2 linked regions of the Homo sapiens genome follow. The protein of the gene in region 1 interacts with the protein of each later gene in a pairwise test. Each region holds a gene or a part of one and is shown in the gene's direction. Other genes may lie near its edges.

Region 1 (13,792 bases):
GTGACAGAGTGAGATCCTGCCTCTGAAATAAAACAGGCCCGGCACGGTGGCTCAAGGCTGTAATCCCAGCACTTTGGGAGGCAGAGGCGGGTAGGTCACCTGTGGCCAGGAGTTCAAGACTAGCCTGGTCAACATAGTGAAACCCTGTCTCAACTAAAATACAAAAAAATGGCCGGGCTCAGAGACTTATGCCTGTAATCCTAGCACTTAGGGAGGCCGAGGTGGGAGGAACAACCTGAGGCCAGGAGTTAAAGACCAGCCTGGCCAACATGATGAAACCCCATCTCTACTAAAATACAAAAATTAGCCGGGCACGATGGTGGGTTCCTGTAATCCCAGCTACTCGGGAGGCTGAGCAGGAGAATCACTTGAGCCCAAGAGGCGGAGGTCGCAGTGAGCCAAGATCACACCACTGCACTCCAGCCTGGGCGGCTGAGTGAGACTCTGTCTCAAAAAATAAAATAAATAAATAAATAAATAAATAAATAAATAGCCGGGCATCGTGGCGCACACTGGTAATCCCAGCTACTCGAGAGGCTGAGCAGGAGAATCTCCTGAATCCAACAGGCGGAGGTTGTAGTGAGCCGAGATGGCACCACTACACTCCAGCCTGTGTGACAGAGCAAGACTCGTCTCAAAAATAAATAAATTAATTAATTAAATAAAATTAAAAAAAACAGAAAAACACCTCAACACTCAACCAGTGCTTGTCTCTGTGTTGCAGAGTTATGAGTGACTTTGGTTTTTTGTTTACCCCTCTTCTACTTCCTGGATTTCCTACCATGTACATGAATTACCTTTAAAGTTTAAAAAAAGAAGGAGTAGAAGTAATTTTATATGAAAAAGAAGGTTCAATGTTGACACTAAACAACCAGGACATTCTGGGCACCCCTCAGTTCCTGGGCCTGCCCCCATACTCACACCCTGAGCACTTCACTCAGGAGGGACCAGGAAGAGGTAGGGACAAGGAAAGACAAGAAATCACATTCAGGCTGCAGAGTACAGCGAACGGCTCCCACCTGAAAACCACTGGTAACAAATACTGGGAGATAAAAATGCTGGTTCTTGGCCGGGTGCAGTGGCTCACGCCTGTAATCCCAACACTCTGGGAGACTGAGAGGGGCGGATCACCTGAGGTCAGGAGTTTGAGACCAGCCTGACCAACAAGGAGAAACCCCGCCTCTACTAAAAATACAAAATTGGCTGGGCGTGGCAGCGCATGCCTGTAATCCCAGCTACTTGGGAGGCTGAGGCAGGAGAATCGCTTGAAACTTGGAGGCAGAGGTTGTGGTGAGCTGAGATCGTGCCACTGCACTCTAGCCTAGGCAACAAAAAAAGAAAAAGAAAGAAGAAAAGGCAAACGCTGCTGGGTGCAGTGGCTCACACCTGTAATCCCTTTGGGAGGCCAAGGTGGGAGGATCACTTGAGTCTAGGAGTTCGGGACCAACCTGGGCAACATAACAAGACCTCATCTCTACAAAAATAGAAAAAAATTAGCCAGGCATGGTGGCACGTGCCTGTGGTCCCAGCTACTTGGGAGGCTGAGGCAAGAGAACTGCTAAAGCCCAAGAGCTCAAGGCTTCGGTGAGCCATGATCCCACCACTGCACTCCGGCCTGGGTGACAGAGCAAAACCCTGTCTCAAAGAAAAAAAAAAAGGAAAAGCTGGAGCTGGAACAAGGCCTTGGGGAAGGTTAACACACTCTACACTCCAGACCCCAGAGGAAGGGGCCTGCCTCTCAGATTATCAATCTCCAGCCTGAAAAGCTTGGATCTGGTCACCCTCATCACAACATCACCCCTTGATCAAAACCCTTGGTGCCCTCAGTGTTTCTCAGGACAGGCAAGTGGAAACCCTTGCTGAGCTATCATCCACCTGCCATCCACTAAGGGACAGCCCCTTTGGTACAGCAGCTCAGGCTGGCCCTCCACATATGGGCTCTCTCCCCTTCCTGCCCTCTGCTGGGCAGGCCTTTCTCTGCTTCCTCAGTGGGCCAGCTCCACCTGGGCTTTCAGGATGCAAAGCTCTGTGGCCTTACTGTGGCCACGGGGCCTGGGAACACACTGCCTTTGTTATCTTCCAGGAGCTCTGGGGCGGCACCTGCATCCCTTTGCCAGTAGTTTGTCACCCCATAAGGGCAGAGGTTTTTTTTTGTTTTTTTTTTGAGACAGAGTCTCACTCTATGGCCCAGGGTAGTGTACAGTGGCACGATCTCAACTCACTGCAACCTTTGCCTGCCAGATCCCAGAGATTCTCGTGCCTCAGCCTCCTGAGCAGCTGGGACTACAGGCACGTGCCACAATGCCCAGCTAATTTTTTGTATTTTTTAGTAGAGATGGGGTTTCACTATGTTGGCAAAGCTGGTCTCAAACTCCTGGCCTCTAGTGATCCTCTGTCTCAGCCTCCCAAAGGGCTGAGATTACAGGTGTGAGGCAGCACACCTGAACTCAAGGCAGAGATTTTTACTCTGTTATACCCCTTCCCTCTGCACCACAGCTGGCTGGCAGTAAATAACTGCTGAGTGGATGAGTTGGCAGGCTGTCCTCTGGGCTTCCACATACCCCTCATTTCTCTCTTGCCACAGTGAGCCTCCCAAGGGCATCTGGGTCATTCCTTGGATCATCAGGCTATGGCTGGGTGCAAGCACATGCTGACTGCCCTCACAAGCCAAACCCTGTGCTGGTGACCCTCAAAGACTCACATCCAGGCCCCATCCAGGCCCCAGCAGGCACTTACTCGCCAGGATGTGGGGGCTGAGGGCTGGCCACCTGATTCTGCTTGGCTTTCTGTTCCATTTTGGCTTCAATTTCCCGTTTCTTCTGAGCGATGAGCTCTTCCTGGTGAAGGATGTTCATGTTCATTTTTCCAGATTTAGGGGGAGCAACCCCAAACCACCGGTTAGCCTTTCCTGGGGAGGGAAAAGGAGTACGTCGGAAATCACCCTTACTCCACAAACACCCCAAGAAGCTGTGACAGGCCAGAGAGCAACTGATGTTCAGATTAATTTATATGTCTATTAGTTCATTTATTCAGCAAACACTTACAGAGTGCCTGCTGCATACCATACCCTGTACTTACTACGTGCTATGCAAGAGAACACAGGTCTCTGCCCACGTGGGACTCGCTTCAGGCTGGGAAGACAATAGACCCATAATAAAAAAGTAACTTTCGGGCTGGTGCAGAGGCTCATGCCTGCAATCCCAGCACTTTGGGAGGCAGGGGCAGGCGGATCACTTGAGGTCAGGAGATCGAGACCAGCCTGGCCAACGTGGTGAAACCCTGTCTCTACTAAAAATACAAAAATTAGCTGGGTATGGTGGCATGTGCCTGTAATCCCAGCTACTAGGGAGGCCGAGGCAGGAAAATTGCTTGAACCAGGGAGGTGAAGGTTGCAGTGAGCCGAGATGGTGCCACTGCACTCCAGCCTGGCAACAGAGCAAGACTCTGTCTCAAAAAAAAAAAAAAAAGTAAGTGCACAATGTGGTAAGAGCTCTGCTGAAAACCAAAAAAGGGTGAAAAAGTAACAGGAGAGTACATATGCAGGTAGGACAGGCAGAAAATAAACACTAGAAGAGGAGACATTTAAACCAGAAAAAACAAATAAGAAGCCAGCGTCATGAAAAGCCAAATGGGAGATGATCTGGGCAGAAGAAGGAGCAGATGTGAAAGCTCAAGGCAGGAAGAAGCCTGGTACATCCAAGGAGCAGCAAGTGCCCAGTGTCAGAGGGGCCTGCTCCAGGGACAGGCAGAGGTGAGGCATGTCAGAGCATCTGTGCTTTATTATAAGGGCTTTGGGGAGTGATGGAGAAGCACTAAGATGAAGAATGCAAGATCCATTGGGTCTTTTTTTGAGACAGGGTCTGGCTCTGTTTCTCAGGCTGGAGTGCAGTGGTGTGATCTCAGCTCACTGCAGCCTCCGCCTCCCCGGCTCAAGCAATCCTCCCACCTCAGCCTCCCAAATAGCTTGGATTACAGGCATGCACCACCTCACTTGGCTAATTTTTAAATTTTTTCATAGAGATGAGGTCTTGCTATAGTGCCCAGGCTGGTCTCAAACATTCTTTCCACCTTGGCCTCCCAAAGTGCTGGGATTTACAGGCATGAGGCACCGTGCCCCAGTGGCTTTTTTTTTTTTTTTTTTTTGAGGCGAACTGTTACTCTGTCAGCCAAGATGGAATGCAGTGGCACCACCTCGGCTCATTGCAACCTCCACCTCCCAGGTTCAAGCGATTCTCCTGCCTCAGCCTCCTGAGTAGCTGGGATTACAGGCGTGAGCCACCACACCTGGCTAATTTTTATATTTTTAGTACAGTTAGGATTTCGCCATGTTGTCCAGGCTGGTCTCGAACTCCCGTCCTCAAGGGAACCTCCAATTTACGCCTCTCAAAGCGCTGGAATTACAGGCGTGAGCCACCGAACCCAGCCTTCTTTTTTTTTTTTTTTTTTTTTGAGATGAAGTATTGCTCTTTTCCCCCAGGCTGGAGTGCAATGGCGCGATCTTGGCTCACTGCAATCTCCACCTCCAGAGTTCCAGCGATTCTCCTGCCTCAGCCTCCCGAGTATCTGGGACTACAGGCATCTGCCGCCATGCCTGGCTAATTTTTTCATATTTTTAGTAGAGATGGGGCTTCACCATGTTGGCCAGGCTGGTCTCGAATTCCTGACCTCAAGTGATCCACCCACCTCAGCCTCCCAAAGTGCTGGGATTACAGGCGTGAGCCACCACACCCAGCCGTTTTTTTTGTTTTGTTTTGTTTTTTTGAGACAGGGTCTCGCTGAGTTGCCCAGGCAGGAGTGCAGTTGCATGATCGTAGCTCACTGCATCCTCAAACTCCTGGGCTCTAGAGATTCTCCCACCTCAGCCACCCGAGTGGCTAGGACTACAGGCACACTCTACCAGGCCTAGCTATTTTCTTTTATTTTTTGTAGAGACAGGTTCTTGCTATGTTCCCCAGGCTAATCTTGAACTCCTGTCCTCAAGGGAGCCTCCCATTTAAGCCTCCCAAAATGCTGAGATTTTAGGCATGGATCACCACACCTAGCCAATATCCACAGGGTCGTTTTATTTTCATCCTGGCTACTAGGTAATCATTCTGGCCAGAGAATCCACAGGCAACAAGACCAGGGAGGCTCACTGGCTCCAAGCAACAGACAATGATGTCTTCAGACTAGGGTGATAGTATGGAGACAGGGAAGACACCTCAGAGGTTCCCCATGGGACTCAGAATAAAATCCAAATTTTAAAAGTCTGAGCCGGGCATGGTGACTCACACCTGTAATCCCAGCACCTGGGAGGCTGAAGCAGGCAGATCACTTGAGGTCAGGAGATCGAGACCAGCCTGGCCAACATGGTGATACCCCGTCTCTACTAAAAATACACAAAAACACTGGCCAGGTGCGGTGGCCGGCGCCTGTAATCCCAGCTACTCAGGAGGCTGAGGCAGAAGAATGGCTTGAACCCGGGAGGTAGAGGTTGCAGTCAGCCGACATCGTGCCACTGCACTCCAGCCTGGGCGACAGAGCGAAACTCCGCTTCAACAAAAAGAAAAAAAGAATTCTAAAAGGCCATTTTCAAGGCCCCGCCAGATGGTTCCCCTCCCTTCTGCTTCATCCTTGACATTCTTCAAAAGGACAAGCCCATCCTACCAGGGCCTCTGCATTTACTGGCCCCCCTCTGTGTGGAAGGCTCCACCCTCCAGGGATTCCCATAGCTGGCATTCATTGTCTTAACTCAAATGTCCTCTGCTTGAAAAGGCCTTTCCCTGGGCCAGGTGTGGTGGCTCACACCTTTACGTAACCCCAGCACTTTAAGAGGCTGAGATGGGAGGATCGCTTGAGCCTAGGAATTCCAGACCTGCATGGGAAACGTGGCAACACAAAAAACACACAAATTCGCTGTGTGGTGGCGCGCATCTGTGGTCTCAGCTACTAGGGAGGCTGAGGTGGGAGGATCACCTGAACCCAGGGAGCCACAGTGAGCCACTGCACTACAGCCTGGGCGACAAAGTGAGACCCTGTCTCAAAAAAAAAAAAAAAAAAAAAAAGAAAGAAAGAAAGAAAAGGTCTTTCCTGACTACCCAATATCAGAAGCCTCCACTCTGATCATATCATACGTAACCTCACATCATACGTAAGTTTTTGTAAATATTTTCTCATTAATGCACTGACACCCCAGTAGAAAGCAACCTCCAGGAAGGCAGGGCCCTGTTTCGGTCACCGCTGCATGCGTAGCGCCCAGCACACTGCTTGGCACACAGTGAGCACGCCCTAAGTATCTGCTGATGGGTAAATGCATTCTATTCTGGGGAAGCAGAAAGGCCAAGGCTTGCAGCAAAGTGAGGGTCAAAAGACGCGGGAAAGTGTGTCAAGGGAGCCTCAAAGCACTTCGGAAAAGCAGCTTTTCCAGAAAGCGGGACACAGGCCAGAGGCCAGCTGCGACGAAAAGAGGGGTGCAGGGACAGCCCAAGGTTGTCGCCGTATTGGGGAACGGAGGTTGGAGCAGCCCTGAAGGCGGTTGTTTCGGAAACGGGACGCAGGGCCGAGCCGGGTGGCGGCCTCTACGGAGATCCGTGCGTCCTCAGCAAACCAAGCGGGGGCGGCCAGCAACCTGGGTCTGGGGTCTCGAGAAACCAAGAGGTGCAGAAGCCGACGCTGTGGGCTGCCCCGGGGCTGAAGCGAGGGATCCACGGGTCGCAGCAGGACGGACCCGAGGAGTCAGGGGAGACACCTAGCCCCAGGGACCCAGGCGGCCGCCTGAGAGGAGGCGGGGGCTGTTACCTGCAACATCCCGGTTGTCCATCTTGAGACTCATCCAATCCCACAATGCTCCGGCGCCCCTTAAGGGGCCCTGTTATAGTGTGCATCGCCTGATGGGAGATGTAGTCCGCCTCGGTCAGACTCGCCCTATTACTGCGTGAACGACTGGGTTTTTTTTTTTTTAACCTCCAGAAACGGAAGCCTCAGCCTATCAGCGATGCCTAAGTCCCAGTCACGATAACCAAACGGCGTCGCCCTTTTACACCTTCCCGGAGCGGCAGTCATCCCAAATACAAACTACATGTTCCAGGATGCTTTGGGCGGCAGATCTCGCGGAAGCCGCGAGGAGAGCCCGGCCCCGTCTCGCGCGCCTGCTTCCGCCTCCCTGTGGCGGCGGCTTGTTGTTGTGGAGGCCAAAATGGCGGCTCAGGCGGCGGCAGCGGCCCAGGCGGCGGCGGCCCAGGCTGCGCAGGCCGAGGCGGCCGACTCGTGGTACCTGGCGCTTCTGGGCTTCGCTGAGCACTTCCGCACTTCCAGCCCGCCCAAAATCCGCCTGTGCGTGCACTGCCTGCAGGCCGTGTTCCCCTTCAAGCCGCCGCAGCGCATCGAGGCCCGTACACACCTGCAGCTGGGCTCCGTTCTCTATCACCACACCAAGAACAGCGAGCAGGCGCGCAGCCACCTGGAGAAGGCGGTGAGCGCGGGCCGGGCCGCGAGGGAGGAGTCGCGGGCTCCTTGCAAGATCTGGGCTGACGGGTCGCGACCGCGGCGGGTGGGGGGCCGCTCCTCGGCGACCTGGGGGCGCGACCTCCGTCAAAGCCGCAGGACCCCCACCCGCCTCTGCCGGACCCCAAAGCCACCAGCCTCTCAAGGGACACGAAAGCCTCGCCCCCCACGCCTTATTTCCCGTTTCTGGTGACAGGGCTCCAGGAGCCCCGTCACCGTACTCTGAAAGTTGCCTGTTATTGGGAGCAACAGGATCCGCAAATCGTCTGGTTTTCAGGAGGATCCCACCTGTTGGTGGCGATGGGGACATCACAGGGTCCTGAAGCTATTAGCTCCTCCTGGTTCAGCTTCCGGAGCATCAGCCCCAAACGCTTCCACCTAAAGTGACTTGGGGTAGGGGTTGGCGAAGGCGAGACCCCTGGCATTCTCCCGGGAATCTGAAGTCTGGTCTCTCAGGAACCTGGAAGGGCATGATTCTCCTTGGACACAGAAGTTTGGTAATCGTGGTTTTTGGAGGGTCTTGTGCCCCCATCAATAATGCCTGGTGTCGTACGAGGGAAGCTGAGACCCGGAGTCTGGAGTTGGTCATTTGAGGCCTATGAGGAGGAGAAACAGGGGTTCTGGATTCCAGGCCCCGCTGTTCAGTTTCAGTATTAGGGGAACTAAAAGCAGCTCCTGCTTTTTCTCCATCCACTGGTGACTTCTACCATCCATCAGTCCATCCTCTTCCGTCAGAGTGAGTCCCTCCCCTGACCCAACTTGATTTGTGTCATCTTGGTGCCTCAAAGAATGCGGGAGAGTGGCTGTCATTCTGCCCTTTAGTAAACTTTCTTTTTTTTTTTTTTTTTGAGACGGAGTCTTGCTCTGTCACCCAGGCTGGAGTGCAGTGGTGCCATCTTGGCTCACTGCAAGTTCCGCCTCCCGGGTTCAGGCCATTCTCCTGCCTCAGCCTCCTGAGTAGCTGAGACTACAGGCGCCCGCCACCACGCCTGCCTAATTTTTTGTATTTTTTAGTAGAGATGGGGTTTCACCGTGTTAGCCAGGGTGGTCTCCATCTCCTGACCTCATGATCTGCCCACCTCGGCCTCCCACAGTGCTGGGATTACAGGCTTGAGCCACCGCGCCCGGCCCCTTTAATAAACTTTCTAGGGCCAGGCTCAGTGGCTTATGTCTGTAATCCCAGTATTTTGGGAGGCGGAGGCAGACAGATTACTAGACCCCAGGAGTTTGAGACCAGCCTGGGCAACACAGTGAGATCCCGTCTCTACAAAAAATACAAAAACTAGCTGGGCGTACTGACGCGGGCCTGTAGTCCCATCTACTCCAGAGGCTGAGGTGGGAGGATCAGCTAAGCCCCGGGAGGTCGTGGCTGCAGTGAGCAGTGATCACGCCACTTCACTCCAGCCTTGGTGACAGTGAAACCCTGTCTCAGAAAAAAAAGATAATAAGGAAAAAATAATAAAATTTCAGGCTGTGGAGTCGTTTTTTTCTCACAGCAGCGCTGTGATCCTGTCAGACCCCTGCCTCCCTTTTACCTTTTACCCAGCTCTGTCCTGCTTGAATAGAAAATTATTGAAAAGAATCAACTCAGATTTTAAAAACTCATTAATCTGAGGTAAATCCAAGCCCACCCTCAGCTAGTAACAACTTGCCTTGAGGAATAGATCAAATCTTTGTTTCACAGACTGAAAAGTTGGAAGGAGACTTTATTTTATTTTATTTTATTTATTTGTTTATTTTGAGACGGAGTTTCGCTCTTGTTGCCGGGGCTGTAGCGCAATGGCAGGATCTCAGCCCACTGCAACCTCCGTCTCCCGGGTTCAAGTGATTCTCCTGCCTCAGCCTCCCGAGTAGCTGGGACTACAGGTGTGCGCCACCACACCCAGCTAATTTTTGTATTTTTAGTAGAGACGGGTTCACAGTATTGGCCAGGCTGGTCTTGAACTCCTGACCTTGTGATCCACTCCCCTCGGCCTCCCAAAGTGCTGAGATTACAGGCATGAGCCACTGCGCCCAGCCCCAGATAATTTTTTTTCTTTTTTTTTTGAGACAGATTCTCGCTTTGTCACCAGGCTGGAGTGCAGTGGCGCGGTCTTGGCTCACTGCAACTTCCGTCTCGTGGGTTCAAGCAATTCTCTTGCCTCAGCCTCCCGAGTAGCTGGGATTACAGGCTTGCACCACATCATCTGGCTAATTTTTGTATTTTTAGTAGAGACAGAGTTTCACCATTTGGTCAGGCTGGTTTCGAACTCCTGACCTCAAGTGATCCGCCCATCTTGTCCTCCCAAAGTGCTAGGATTATAGGTGTGAGTCACCACATCTGGCCAGTTTTATTTATTTATTTATTTATTTATTTTGAGACAGGGTCTCGCTCCATCACCCCGGCTGGGGTGCACTGGCGTGATCTCAGCTCACTGCAGCCTTGACCTCCTGGGCTCAAGCAGTCCTCCCATCTCAGCCTCCTGAGTAGTTGGGACCACAGGTACGCACCACCACACCCAGCTAATTTTTGTGTTTTTTGTAAAGACAAGGGCTTGAACTCCTGAGCTCAAGCCATCCACCTGCCTCAGCCTCCCAAAGTGCTGGAACTACAGGCTTGAGCCATTGTGCCCAGCGTGGAAGGCAACTTTAGTCCTCACTTGATCAACTGCCTTGTTTCAAAAGGGAGGCATTATGGGCCCAGAGAGGTAAAGTGATTTGCCCAAGGCTGCACAACAAGTTATTGACAAAACTAGGCTCAAACTCCAGCTCAGTGATAACCAGGTTACATGCCAAGATGATACATCATTATTGTTTTGGTGAAGTTTTTTTTCCTTTGATTCATTCAACAGATACTTGTTCAGCTCATGCAGGATGCCAAGCCCTATTTTTGGTGCCGGGGGATCAGCAATGGCTAAAACAGTTTCTGCCCACGTAAGCCTAGGTTTTCATGAGGAAGACAAATGATAAGCATATAGTAAGAGGTTAGGCAGTGATGGAAGAACCTTGAGAACTGAACCAGGGAGAAGAGATGGAGTTGACTTGGAGCTATTTTTGGCAGAGGTAGTGAGAGAGTCTCTATTTGTGGGAGTGACATTTGAGCAGAGGCCTGAATGGGTGGGGCAGGGAGCCTGGAGAACCACTCGGGGGGTCAGGTTGATGGCAAGGAGTGCCTAAGCTGTCGGGGACTGGCAGATGGTATCAGGGTCTCTCCAGGGTCATGATGAGGCTGAGATCAAATGAGGCACCAGACTTTATTGACTGGGAGGGGTCTGGTGGCCCAGCATCTCCAGTGGATGTGCTGGTTCTAAAACTCTCCTTTCTCTCCATGAACAACTCCCACCACCTGCCTTCCCTTGTCTCCCAGGGCTGTTCAGCCTGTTTCTGGCAGTGGCTAATAGTCACTGTGTGTACTGTCGTATTTTGCCCACTCAGCCCTGTCTAGGAGAAGCAGTCATGCTGCAAATTGCTCGCTTTACCACTTGGCTTTTGGACCCATAATTTAAACCCTTCTCCTTGCGAAGTGCCTTTGCTCTGTCAAATGGAACTTTGAATCTTGAAGGGTCTTCCACTGAGCCACATGGTGCCCTCTGTAGCTCACGCCAACTTTATGCCTGGAAATCCCGTTCTTTTTGTCAGTCGCATCCCAACTGAAAATTTTTCCAGCTTTTAGTTAAAGTAATGTTTTCTATACTGTTTTCCTTCCACCAACGTTTGTGAATTTTTTTTGTGTTACAACATAAGCATGCTTTCTTTCATCTTCATTCTTTATTAATTGTGCATTTTTTCCCAATCAGGGAGCTATCAACTTTTATTCTTTCCTTCCCCAGAGCTACTTAATAAAGAATCGTATGTTCTCCGCTTAGAGGTGGTTTGCTGGTTTCTACTTCTGAAAAGCAAATGGCTGAAGAGATTCCAGTGTCTTCTTGGAGAGCCAACCCAGTGTAACAGTATTTTGCAATAGTTTGTGACATTTCTCCTTGCTCATTCTCTCTGCTGTTCTTTTTATTTTTATTGTTACTTTTATTTTATTTATTTATTTTTTGAGATGTAGTCTTGCTCTGTCACCCAGGCTCTGGAGTGCAATGGCGCAATCTTGGCTCACTGCAACCTCTGCCTCCCGGGTTCAAGCGAGTCTCCTGCCTCAGCCTCCCAAGCAGCTGGGATTACAGGCGCCCACCACCACGCCCAGCTAATTTTTGTATTTTTAGTAAAGAAGGGGTTTCACCACGTTGGTCAGGCTGGCCTTGAACTCCTGACGTCAGGTGATCCACCCGCCTTGGCCTCCCAAAGTGCTGGGATTACAGGTGTGAGCCACCACACCCAGCCTATTTTATTTTTCATTTTTTTGAGAAGGAGTTTCACTCCTATTACCCAGGCTGGAGTGCAGTGGTGCGATTTCAGCTCACTGCATACTCCACCTCCCGGGTTCAAACGATTCTCCTACCACAACCTCCTGAGTAGCTAGGATTACAGGCATGTGCCACCATGCCCAGCTAATTTTGTATTTTTAGTAGAAACAAGGTTTCATCATGTTAGTCAAGCTGGTCTCGAACTCCTGACCTCAGGTGATCTGCCCGCCTCAGCCTCCCAAAATGCCGGGATTACAGGCATGCCACCACACCCGGCATCTCTCTGCTCTTCTTCACTGAACTAATTTTCTCTAACATAAGTGCTTAGGTAAAACCTATTATTGGCCCCTGAACTCAGTGCTACATCCAGCTTTCCTATTGTTTTCACTGTCTTTTGCTTTCTCTCTAAGAGACCCCAGCCTCCTTGGTCATCACATTTTTATTTAAGGTTATTTCTCTTTTATCTGCTTCTGTCAGTTTCTAATGGTCTCCTCAACTGCATTTTTTTTTTTTTTTTTTTGAGACAGAGTCTCACTTTGTTGCCCAGGCTGGAGTGCAATGGCGCAATCTCAAATCATTGTAACCTCCGCCCTCCGGGTTCAAGCGATCCTCCCACCTCAGCCTCCTGAGTAGCTGGGATTATAGGTGTGTGTCACCATGCCTGGCCCTCAACTGCATTTTAAGTCGTCTAGAAAGATATATAACATACTTACTCGTCTACTTCATCAAGTCAACTAACTTTGAAAGAATCATCCATTAAATGTCCCCATCAGGCCAGGTGTGGTGGCTCACACCTGCAATCCCAAGACTTTGTGAGGCCAAAGTGGGCAGATTGCTTAAGCCCAGGAGTTCAAGACCGGCCTTGGCAACATAGCAAAACCCTGTCTCTACCAGAAAAAAAAATATAGCCGGGCGCGGTGGCTCACGCCTGTAATCCCAGCACTTTGGGAGGCCAAGGTGGGCGGATCACGAGGTCAGGAGATCGAGACCATCCTGGCTAACAAGGTGAAACCCTGTCTCTACTAAAAAATACAAAAATTAGCCAGGCGTGGTGGCGGGCGCCTGTAGTCCCAGCTACTCGGGAGGCTGAGGCAGGAGAATGGCGTGAACCCGGGCGGCGGAGCTTGCAGTGAGCTGAGATCGCGCCACTGCACTCCAGACTGGGCGAAAGAGCGAGACTGTCTCAAAAAAAAATATATATATGTATATATATATATATATACATATATATATATATACACAAAAATTAACCAGGCATGGTGGCACATGACTCTGGTCCCAGCTACTCAGGAGGCTAAGGCAAGACAATTCTTGAGCCAGGAAGTTGAGGCTACAGTGAGCTGTGATCGTGCCACTGCACTCCACCCTGGACAACAGACCGAGACCCTGTCTCAAAACTTTAAAAAAAGAATCCCCATCAGAGTCAAAGAGGGTATGTCTTCCTTTCCTCAGCAACTTTTTAAAAATTTGATTGTATTTATTTTTATATTTTCTATAGAGCTAGGGTCTAACTGTGTTGCCCAGGCTGGTCTTAAACTCCGGGCCTCAAGCAATCACCTGCCTTGGCCTCTCAAAGTGCTGGGATTACAGGTGTGAGCCACCACACACAGCCTCCCCAGGAGCTTTTTTTTTTTTTTTTTTTAGATGGACTCTCACTCTGTTGCCCAGGCTGGAGTGCAGTGGCGCAATCTCAGCTCATTAAAACCTCTGCCTCTCAGGTTCAGACTATTCTCCTGCCTCAGCCTCCCAAGCAGCTGGGATTACAGGTGCCTGCCACCATGCCAGGCTAATTTTTTCTACTTGTATTTATTTATTTATTTATTTATTTATTTATTTATTTATTTTGAGACAGAGTCTCGCTCTGTCGCCCAGGCTGGAGTGCAATGGCGCGATCTCGGCTCACTGCAAGCTCCGCCTCCTGGGTTCATGCCATTCTCCTGCCTCAGCCTCCTGAGTAGCTGGAACTACAGGCGCCTGCC
Region 2 (11,322 bases), on another chromosome or scaffold:
GGGAGGCCATGGCAGGTGGATCACTTGAGCTCAGGAGTTTGAGACCAGCCTGGGCAACATGGCAAATCCCCGTATCTATAAAAAATACAAAAAATTACCTGGGGGCAGTGGTGTGCACCTGTAGTCCCAGCTACTCAGGAGGCTGAGGCAGGAGAAGTGCTTGAGCCTGAGAGGCAGAGGTTACAGTGACCTGAGATTGCACCATTACACCCCATACTGGGTGACAGGAGTGAAACCCTGTCTCAAAAAAATTATTTAAAAAGCATAGTATTTGCATATAACCTACATACATCCTCCCATATGCTTTAAGTCATTTCTAGATTACTTATAATACCTAATACAATGTAAATGCTATATACATAGTTGTTATACTGCATTTTTTTTAAGTTGTATTTTTTATTGTAATGCTGTTTGTTTTGTTTTGAGACGGAGTTTCACTCTTGTTGCCCAGGCTGGAGTGCAATGGCGCGATCTCGGCTCACCGCAACTTCTGCCTCCCAGGTTCAAGCAAGTCTCCTGCCTCAGCCTCCCGCATAGCTGGGATTACAGGCGCCAGCCACCACGCCCGGCTAATTTTTGTATTTTTAGTAGAGATGGGGTTTCACCATGTTGGCCAGGCTGGTCTCAAACTCCTGACCTCAGGTGATCCGCCGGCCTCCCAAAGTGCTGGGATTACAGGCATGAGCCACCATACCTGGCCAGTGCTGTTATTTTTTATTGTGGCATTTTCCAAATAGTTTTTGATCCACTGTGGGTTGAATCCGCAGGTGCGGAATCCGGGGATACAGAGGGCTATGTTTTTAATTCAGAAAAATACATGGCTTATATGTCATAAAAGGTAAAACTGCAAGCAGTCATTCTCTTACCGTGTTTGGCTATTCTGTTCCTTTCTTTTCTGATAACCAATATTATTACTTTTTCGTATGTTCTTATATGAGTAATGCCAATATATATATATGTAGATTTTCTCACTTATCAAGTATGCAAATGTATGTATATAAAATGTGCTTTAAAAATAGAGACAGATAATAGACTAGAGGTTACCAAGGACCGGGGAAGGAAAGAACGGGGAGTTATTGTTTAATGAGGACAGCTGTGGTTTCCAGTGATTAAAAAAAAAAAGAAACAGCTCTGGAAATGGACAGTGGTGATAGTTGTACAATATGCCAATGAATTATACATTTAAAATGGTTAAACTGGTAGGCTGGACATGCTGGCTTATACCTGTAATCTTAGCACCTTGGGAGGCCTATGTAGGAGGTTTGCTTGAGTCCAGGAAGTCCAGGCCAGCCTGAGCAACAGGGTGAGACCCTGTCTCTACAAAAAATACAAACATTAGCCAGACATGGCGGTGTGCACCTGTAGTCCCAACTGCTGGGGAGGCTGAGGTGGGAGGACCACCTAAGCCTGGGAGGTGGAGGCTACAGTGAGCCATGATCGTGCCACTGCACTTCAGCCTGAGTGACAGAGTGAGACCCTGTCTCAATTTAAAAAGAAAAAAAAAAAGGGTTAAGCTGGCAAATTTTATGATATTTCTATTTTATCACAATATAAAAGTTTTTAAAAATGTTTTTGAAATTAGAGGACTATCCTAAAAAATAAAAATAAAGTTTTATATTTTAATCTACTTAATTTCAGGTGTAGTGGCTCACAAGCACTTTGGGAGGCTGAGGTGGGCAGATCACTCGAGGCCAGAGGTTTGACACCAGTTTGGCCAACATTGCAAAACCCCATTTCTATTTTTCTTAAAAAAATTTTTAAAAATCTACTTTAAAGCAAGTAGCTGAACATAAAATAAGGTTTTTTGAACTAAGAATATAATCTACACAGTGGCTTTTCATATTATTCATTGACTGCAAACCTTACTCTAAAATTTAAAAATATTTTAGTTCTTATTTAAAATTTTTCAACATTCTTTGCTTTCTCTTGTATCGTCTTAGCAGAGAGCAAAGAGGGGAGATAACTAGAAAATGTCTATCAGTAATTATCACCTGATTGCTTGATGACTTGGACCAAGGGTCTGAAAACTCTGGCTGTTTTTGTATCTAACCCATTGCCTGTTTTTGCAAACAAAGTTTTATTGAAAACATTCATGCCCACTCATTTATTTGTCTGTAGCTGCTTTCATACTACAGTGGCAGAGTTGGGTAGTTGTGACAGACTATTTGACCTTCAAAATGAAAAATATTTACCACCTGGCTGTTTACAGAAAATGTTTACTAGCCCCTAATTTAGATGATGGCTAACGTCTGTTTCACCCACACCAAACTACTGCCATAGAAAACATTTAGGAATTTGACAATCTTGCTTGAAATATTTACTTAAAATTCTGAAATAATATCTGTTTTTTGTAGTTCAAACTTCTCATGGAACATCTGGACCCTGATGAAGAAGAAGAAGAAGGGGAGGTTTCAGCTAGCACAAATGCTCGGAACAAAGCAATTACCTCACTGCTTGGAGGAGGCAGCCCTAAAAATAATACAGCAGCAGAGACAGAAGATGATGAAAGTGATGGGGAGGATAGAGGAGGAGGCACTTCAGGGGTGAGGCGGAGGAGGAGTCAACGTATTTCGCAGCGTATTACGTAAAATGATTTTTATGTGCTTATATATGTCAGTCTATTAAATGTACACCAAGTAATGTAATACTTAAAAGAGAAAACATTTTGTAGATAGAGATTCTCTACTTACCCGTTTATACATCCTTTTGTAGAAAGTTTAACATAAAAGACAATAAAAAAACAGAAATGAGATTTATCCAGCATAAAGGGTTAATTTTTCTTTGAATTGTATTAATGTGTGTTATTTTTATTGTTGCTAAGTTTTATGTAGCTATATGGTTCATATGTATATATAATTTTATATATCAATAAGAGTAAAGACACGGGTACAAATTAAGAGTTATATGGTTTTACAAGTATATGTTAACCCCTTGGCGCTGGCGGTCACGGTGCGTCTCATTGCCGGCAATGGAAGTGTGCCGGGAAATCCCAACTCCCGGCGTCAAGGGATTAAAAGCAATAAAAACAATAATTTCACTAAAATTCTTTTGTGTAACACTTGGTCTTTTTTCCCCCCTCCCAATGTTTTAGTCATTGAGAAGGTCAAAACGAAATTCAGACTCTACGGAGTTGGCAGCACAGATGAATGAAAGTGTTGACGTCATGGATGTCATCGCTATTTGCTGTCCAAAGTACAAAGATCGACCACAAATTGCAAGAGTAGTGCAGAAAACCAGCAGTGGCTTCAGTGTTCAGTGGATGGCAGGCTCCTACAGTGGCTCCTGGACTGAGGCTAAGCGCCGTGATGGCCGCAAACTGGTGCCTTGGGTAGACACTATTAAAGAGTCAGACATTATTTACAAAAAAATTGCTCTAACGAGTGCTAATAAGCTGACTAATAAAGTTGTTCAGACTTTACGATCCCTGTATGCCGCCAAGGATGGGACTTCCAGCTAATGAATTTGTACATGCAGCCAAATTTACAGGAATTTTTTTAAAAGGCAGAAAAACTTGAAATACCAACATTCTGGCAAAAAAAAATCAGTTTTATGAAGAGTAAGTGGAACCTGGGATGCAGGAACAAAAGAAGGAAATGTTGGGCAAACATTTTTGTGGGAGCTCCCTTCGCTGTTGTGCAGCAGAAACAGATTCTCAGTTCATTTTTACTCCCACTGTATTATAGTTTAACAAAAATTGTTTATATCTTGGAAAAAAAACTTTCTGTTTAAAAAAAATAAACAAGTGAATGTTGGAAATTAGTCTGTTAATGTTCTTAATAAAGTGTTCTTGGAGTTTAACCTAGCAGCGGATGGCTTTCTTTAGCTTAGCCCAGTTTCCAGGGAAGCATTGTTTTTTCCAGGCTGTAAAATGGCAGAATCTCCTGGATATATAATTTATTCTGTTGAAAAAAAAAAAAGCATGCAGTATCTATGACCTATCTGCAGAAGGAGTTTTTGTAAATGTAGATTTTGATGTATTAGGTCACCCTGAAAACAATACAAGAAAAGGGATCCCCAGGTAATCTGGTGGAGCGAATACTGCAATAAATTTTTTTACTTCTCTTTGTTACTTGTCTGTTTCCATTTGAATTTCTTATTGTAAAAATCTGTTTAAATCCATTTATATTATTTTACAGTCTTTTATGTAAAATTTATTATATCACTGGTTTTCAAAGCAAAACATAAAATATTGTTTATACAGTTTGTATAGGCTGACTTCTGAATAATTGGTATCTATTATTTTCATTCCCATAAGAGGGTGTAAACAATTAACTCCAGGGTTTTATTGTATCCTGCAATATTTAGTATTAACTATATATGATTTAGCACTGTGCCAAACACATTTTCAAGAGTACATTTTGATATAAAAAGAAACTATAGTTTATTCCTTGTATGCTTCAATTTCTTTCTAGTGATGTCATGATGCTGATATTTATTCTTTAAACCTCGGGTAAAGGTAACCTGTTATTTGGAAAACCAGCATTTCTCTTGGTTAAAATGATGTCCGGTTATTTTAGAACTAGAGTTGAGATGAATATGACACTTCATAATTACACTCACTACATTTTTCACAAATTATTTTTTAATGCTGAAAAGAGTAATTTTACTTGTTGAGATGTTTATTCATTTTCTAATCTATGCTAAAAGCTTTTATCATAAGTCTTGGGAACAGTTGTCATTTACACATTACTTACTGCAGATATCTTGACTAAATCAGGAGGGAGGTGTTTAATCATTTGATATGTATAGTTGACACTCAGGAATAGTAATGCCTAAAATTTACAGTGGATGAGGTCTGTTTCAAGTTTAATTCTTTTTAAAAATGTTTTACTTATTTTTAAATCACTTTGAAAAAATTGACCTCCAGAATGCTGTTTTATGAAATTGGCAAATAAATGAAGGTATTCAATTTTTGAGGAAGAATGACATTGCCACAAAATACCTTTTTGTGACACCTATTAAACCACTATGAAAATAACTTTTCAGGATCTATTTCCTATGTGGAATTCTTTCAAATGCTTTCTTCACGGAAATGTTTTCTCACTCTTCGTTTTGTTCCCCTTACTTACATGTTTCTCTTTTCCTTATACTGTGAACTCTGGAACAAAACTAGATTGGGTTGGTTGGTTGGTTGGTTGGTTCTTCTTGGAGTTTATGTATATCAACAAAGGATTTGAGGTCACTTCTGAGAATAATATATCAAAAAGGGTACTGGTTAGAGAAAATATAAGAATAAAATCCAGCCCAGAGAGAGTACTAAGAATGTAAATGTGAGTAAAAAGCCAGTTTTGAATTCTATTTACGTGACAGTGATGCATGCTGTCATTTAATTCTCACAAAAACTCTCGTTATATATTTTATCCTCATTTTGTAGATGAGGATAGCAGGCTTAGAAGGATTTGGTAATTTACTAATGTCATGATAGGGATTTAAATCTGGAATTGAAGTAATTGTGTCTCACTACTCTAAGCTAATTGAACATCAGACATTAAGAGAGATGATCCTTATTGAAGTAAACCAGTTCCTAAAGGATCCTTGTAGTATACATACTTGGGAATCCTGTTCAGAGTAATTTTTAGGAAGTAGGTACACAGTAGTAAGTCTTCTGTTGCCTCAGTTGGCCATAGATGGAATTCTGTGTTTGCCACTCATTAGAAATTTAGGAATTTTAGGCAGGGCACGGTGGCTCACACCTGTAATCCCAGCACTTTGGGAGGCCGAGGCGGGCAGATCACCTGAAGTCAGGAGTTCAAGACCAGCCTGACCAACATGGGGAAACCCCGTCTCTACTAAAAATACAAAATTAGCCGGGCGTGGTGGTGCATACCTGTAATCCCAGCTACTCGAGAGGCTGAGGCAGGAGAATCGCTTGAACCCAGGAGGCGGAGGTTGCGGTGAGCCGAGATCACGCCATAGCACTCCAGCCTGGGCAACAAGAGCGAAACTCCATCTCAAAAAAGAAAAAGAAATTTAGGAATTTTAGGAATCAGTTTTGAAATTTTGTATATATTCTAAGCTCCTATTTTATCTGTTAATAGAAGCCAAATGTTAATATAAGCCTTAACTCTTAAATATACAAACCAAAATTTTCAGAAAGTTGAAGATTCTTCAAGATGAATTGTTAGGTCTTAACACTATTAAAGCTTTGGCAGTCAAATATACAAAATCAAACTTTAAGTATATTGGGGATTCACAAAGTTCTATTAAGTATTTAGAAAGTTCAGTCTTACTCTATAGTGTGTTGATTAATTACCATAGATTAATCTTGTTATATTGACTTGAAAAGATAGGTTATATTTGATATAAAAATTTTCAAGTATCTCTTCACTTTTTAAGTACATTAATATGAAATTTTAGCCTTATTGAAATTGTTTATTAAGAAAGAATGGCTAGTTTTAAAAATATGTTCATACCAAAATACACATGGCAGAAAATTCAGTGATCTCTAGAATTTTCTAGATGTAGTAATCTCTAATGGAAGAAATGCTGAGTTTTTTGAGAGAAATATATAGCTTACTCTGTTGATAGGTTGAGTATTTGAATTATTCAGGTAACTGAAGCACACAGGTGATTTTTATGACCATAGTCTGTCTCATGAAAACAGGTAAGTCAAACTGATGTTTGTTCAATACAGATTTCATGATCAGCAAGCAAATTTACCGTATTTTTATTTAGAAATAAATTAACCAGGGAAGTATGTGGTTCTCCCTCCCCTACCCACCACTTTTAGTTGCACAGAAAAATTCATCCTTGTCACTACCTGTGTCCAGGTGGTCTGCATCTTCAGAACTGTGGATATGGATAATTGGAATAAGATTACTTTTGCAAATATAAAACTCATCAGATTACCCACTTGAAATAATGTAATTTGAAACACTTGATAGTAATTTTTGCCCCATAAAAATCCTACGTGTTTGAACCTTTTGCTGTTTGCCTTGCTCATTTTAAAACCAAAGTTTGTTTAGTCCTATAGCTAATGTTTGTCATAGGCAGCATTTGTTACAAAATGATTTTACTAATTTTTCACTTGAATTTTTTTCTGAAATACAGTCTGTCCTATTGGTGCTAGCCGAGAAACAATTACATGCAAATTTAGTGTAATAGAAAGTCACTGACCAAACAAATTCAGTTTGGTACTCTGTTGACTAAGTGGTCATAAAGTTCCTGTGTGTTTTGCATGATGATGTGAGTACCAAGCCACCCTTCGTTTTTAAGACCCCAATTGTATATGGCTTCACTGCTGAGAGTGGTACGGTGTACACAATTATTTTTCTTATAAGAATTTTGTAAATTATTTTTACTTTAAGAGAATCTCCATTTACCCATTCCTCTGTTTCAGTCATTCTGAATTTCTGACCAAATTTATTTGAGCTGTACTCCATGCACCCCTTTCCACTCTTTCTGAAACAAGTCTCAGGCATCATTTTATTTTATCCATAAATAGGTTATCTTTTTTTTTTTTTTTTTTTTTTTTTGAGACGGAGTCTTGCTCTGTCGTCCAGGCTGGAGTGCAGTGGCCCCATCTCAGCTCACTGCAAGCTCCGCCTCCCATGTTCACACCATTCTGCCTCAGCCTCCCGAGTAGCTGGGACTACAGGCGCCCGCCACCATGCCCGGCTAATTTTTTGTATTTTTAGTAGAGACGGGGTTTCACCATGTTAGCCAGGATGGTCTCAATCTCCTGACCTCACGATCTACCCACGTCAGCCTCCCAAAGTGCTGGGATTACAGGCGTGAGCCACCGTGCCCAGCCCCATAAATAGGTTATCTTTAAATATTCTTCCTTGATATCAAATATCCAGTAAGTGTTTAAATTTTTTATTTTCTCATAAATGTCATATTTTTTAGGTCCTTTCTGTAGGCTTTCTCATGTCTTTTTATTCCTTGCAAATTTCTTATATTGAAAACACAAGTATTTTTCCTTGGGTTCTTAAGTAGATTCTAGGGGCTGGGCGCGGTGGCTCATGCCTGTAATCCCAGCATTTTGGGAGGCCAAGGCGGGCGGATCAAGAGGTCAGGAGTTCAAGACCAGCCTGGCCAACATGGTGAAACCCTCTCTCTACTAAAAATACAAAAATTAGCTGGGCGTGGTGGCACGCACCTGTAGTCCCAGCTACTTGGGAGGCTGAGGCAGGAGAATCACTTGAACCCAGGAGGCGGAGGTTGCAGTGAGCCGAGATTTCGCCATTGCATTCCAGCCTGGCGACACAGCGAAACTCCGTCTCAAAAAAAAAATAAATAAGTAGTTGATTCTAAATGGAGAGTCTAGTTGTTTTCTGATTTTTAATCAGTTTTCTTACCTGAAGTTATTGTAGGCTTGAGAGATATTGGATCTCTTTCAAATTCATAAGTAGCTTGAGCCTGTATAACTAGAACAGAGTACCACTACAGAGGTAATGAAGTACGGAGATAGGTCCACTTTTCAGGAAGATGGTGATAAGCATTGATTAATCCTTTGATTTGGAGTTGGCAAATAACCAAGCAGGCAGTTGGAGATAGAGATTTAAAGTAAGGAAATGGAAGCTGAACTAGATGCCAGAGGATGCCCTATAATCAGAGTTCCTTTTGTTGGTCAGTAATTTTGTAATACATACTGCTTGAAATAAGTTGACTGCAGGCTATGATTTTTTTAATGATACAGCTTTCAGGGTGTTACAGTTTTTGTTGAATGGAATTTTGCCCTTTTGTGACTTTTTTCAGTCATTGTTTAAATCTCAATCACATAGAACTTAAAATGAAAAGTTAGTGTTGCTTTATCAAACCCTTTACATTGACCTTTCTTCTGCTAAGAAATACCAGAGTAAGCTTTTCTTGATTATAACATGCCTAGAATTGTAATTTAGCCTTAACCTTACTAGATTTAAATCCTGGAGCAAAGAACAGAAAAAGGTTATTATGGTCTAAGTTTGTTATAAAATTTAAACCAATAATGGATCTCCAATTCCATAGTTTTAAAAATATTTATACAGTCATATGAGAGATGGCAAATAATCTGAAGTTTTTAATCACTTTGGAATTTACTAACCCCTTTGAGAATATAATGAAAGCCGAGAAATCTCTCTCCTTAGAAAATAGAATAAGTTCATATTCAGAATTGTGCATAAAATTTCAAGGGGTTCATGGACATCCCCATCCCATTTCCGTCTTTGGCCTATCTTGGGAATCTATGGAATGACTACAGGTTTAAGAAGGTGAAATTAAGGCTCAAAGAGGTGAATTGATATCACCAAGCTGCATACCTACTTATTGCTAGAGTCAAAAGCAAAACTGGGTTCTTATCTCCCATAAGGAAGATTTAACCTTGGGAAGTTCTTATTCAGTCTCCTGTTAAGATCTGAATGTAGGCTACTTAATGACTAAATTTTACTGATTTTTTTTTCTATACCTTTTCAAAAGATCCACGTTTTGTGTTCTCAGATTTTGTGATGCCTACCATCCTATTAGGTAGAAAAGGGAAAATGTGATATTTTATTGTGTTTTAATTATTTCTACATCACCTGGCTTGATGTAGAAGACTAAAACTTAGGTTAGTGAAAAAGAGTATTAACTTTGAAGTCAGAAGACATAGTCATAGCCATAGACAAAGCCATGGGTTTCTGAAACAAGTGTGAAATGAAATGTAAACAAAATCACTTAGCTTATTTTGTGGAAGCTTATTTAAAGAAATCTATACTTAGGTTTTGTGTAGACACATTAGAGAGAGAGAATCAGAATGCTGGGTTAAGTGGGGAGATGGGGGATGGAATTCTGAAAGTGGGAGCAGCATAGTGAGTAGAGGAGCTGGCGTGCGTGTAGTACAATGTCAAAAGATGAAGCCATAGAAAGGAGAGATAAGTATGCAATTTTGATAACTTTAGTAATGTAGTAATATAATTTGATCATTTTAATGTATAGGCAGTTGAAGGGCTCAAGGGATTGATGAACGATCACTCTGCTACATAGGGGAAAGACAAGGATGTCAAGAAGAGGACACTAATGCAATAGTCTCAGAAATAGAGACTGAACTAGGAGGATGATGGCAGTAGGGATGAAGATTGGAGTGATCTGCAAATGTATTTAGGAAATAAAAACATCAGGACAAGGATAGCTATCAGATTTCTTTGGCTTAAGTCACCAGGTTCAATTTTAAATATGTTGATAGTGCCTGTGGGACATTCAGGTGATGGTGATGTTCAGAGGTGGGAATATACACAAGCATGACACTTGGGTAGCCAGGGTGGGGACCCTATTGGAGTCAACAGCATTTAAGCTGTAGAGTAGGAGCAGCACAGAGCAAGGGGAGGATCTTGGAGGCTACCAACGGCTAAGCTATAACTACATAGAGTACTGAAATTCTGAGAAGGGAAGCTGGGGAGGGAAGCAAATAATAAAGCATTTAAAATGTCACATTTAGGAATTTGGAAGAGCTTTAAATGGGGTAAGATAATACTAAGGGCTGTAGTTCAGAAAGATCAGTAATTGGCTACAATGTAGAGAAATTGTGGTGATGCCAAACTGCATGATTGTATTGTTTTTCTCCAGTAGTACTCAGCTCCCAACAAAGAATTGAGTATGGCATCAAGCCAGGATGCGGGGATAGCTCTAGTTGAAGAGCTAGATTCAGAGAAAATGGAAGAATCCAAGCTCAGAAGTCTCCATGAAGTGGGAGAGCAAGTATGAGTGTGAGCAGCAGATGTGGAATAATTGGATGATATGATCAGAGAAAGGGATGTAAGAGATTCCTGAGAGCAGTTCTGGGTGCAAGGTATAGAGTGTGGCCTTGGGAATTAATTAGTAAAGTGAAGAGTTGCATTGTGGAGATCAAGGAATCACATGGTACATTCTATACTCCTTTCCTGAGCTAAAACAATGGCTTATTCTTTCTTTGGTACTGACACTGGTTTATTATCTTTAGTTTTTGCAGATTCCATCATTTGACAAGTATTTGCTGAGTGCCTACTATGAGCTGTGCTGCACCCATTGGCAGTAAGTTTGCATTCCAGTAGTGGAGACAGGAAATGACCACAAAGTACACAATTTAATAACAACTGAGATGTGTGCTTGAAAGGAAAAGTAATAGAAGCCAGGAGAGTATGTAGCACTGACATAGTCTGGATGGTTGAGGGAGATCAGAAAGGCTTCCTTCTCCAAGTGAAACATTCTCAGATAAAGCAGGACATGCAACAGACATAACAGATACCAAATAATGTCTGAACTATTGAGAAATAGGAAATGATTTTTGTTTTAAATTGCAGGCTGGGTGCAGTGGCTCATGCCTATAATCCCAACACTTTGGGAGGCTACGGCAGGCAGATCACTTGAGCTCAGGAGTTCAAGACCAGC

The links.
Region 2: the proteins of MAU2 (region 1) and NIPBL interact in binary tests that used the Homo sapiens proteins (3 or more experiments, as listed by UniProt).

What each region holds. Positions count from the first base shown.
Region 1 is NC_000019.10:19,313,686-19,327,477, forward strand, and holds the start of MAU2 (MAU2 chromatid cohesion factor homolog), read left to right. Parts: upstream 1-7,143; 5' UTR 7,144-7,174; coding exon 7,175-7,450; intron 7,451-7,482; exon of another isoform or gene 7,483-8,218; intron 8,219-13,792. Other genes in the region: SUGP1 (SURP and G-patch domain-containing protein 1), read right to left, coding at 2,737-2,908, 6,778-6,811. UniProt on the Homo sapiens protein: Plays an important role in the loading of the cohesin complex on to DNA. Forms a heterodimeric complex (also known as cohesin loading complex) with NIPBL/SCC2 which mediates the loading of the cohesin complex onto chromatin.
Region 2 is NC_000005.10:37,061,436-37,072,757, forward strand, and holds the end of NIPBL (nipped-B-like protein), read left to right. Parts: intron 1-2,354; coding exon 2,355-2,543; coding exon of another isoform or gene 2,544-2,588; exon of another isoform or gene 2,589-3,091; coding exon 3,092-3,457; 3' UTR 3,458-4,978; downstream 4,979-11,322. UniProt on the Homo sapiens protein: Plays an important role in the loading of the cohesin complex on to DNA. Forms a heterodimeric complex (also known as cohesin loading complex) with MAU2/SCC4 which mediates the loading of the cohesin complex onto chromatin.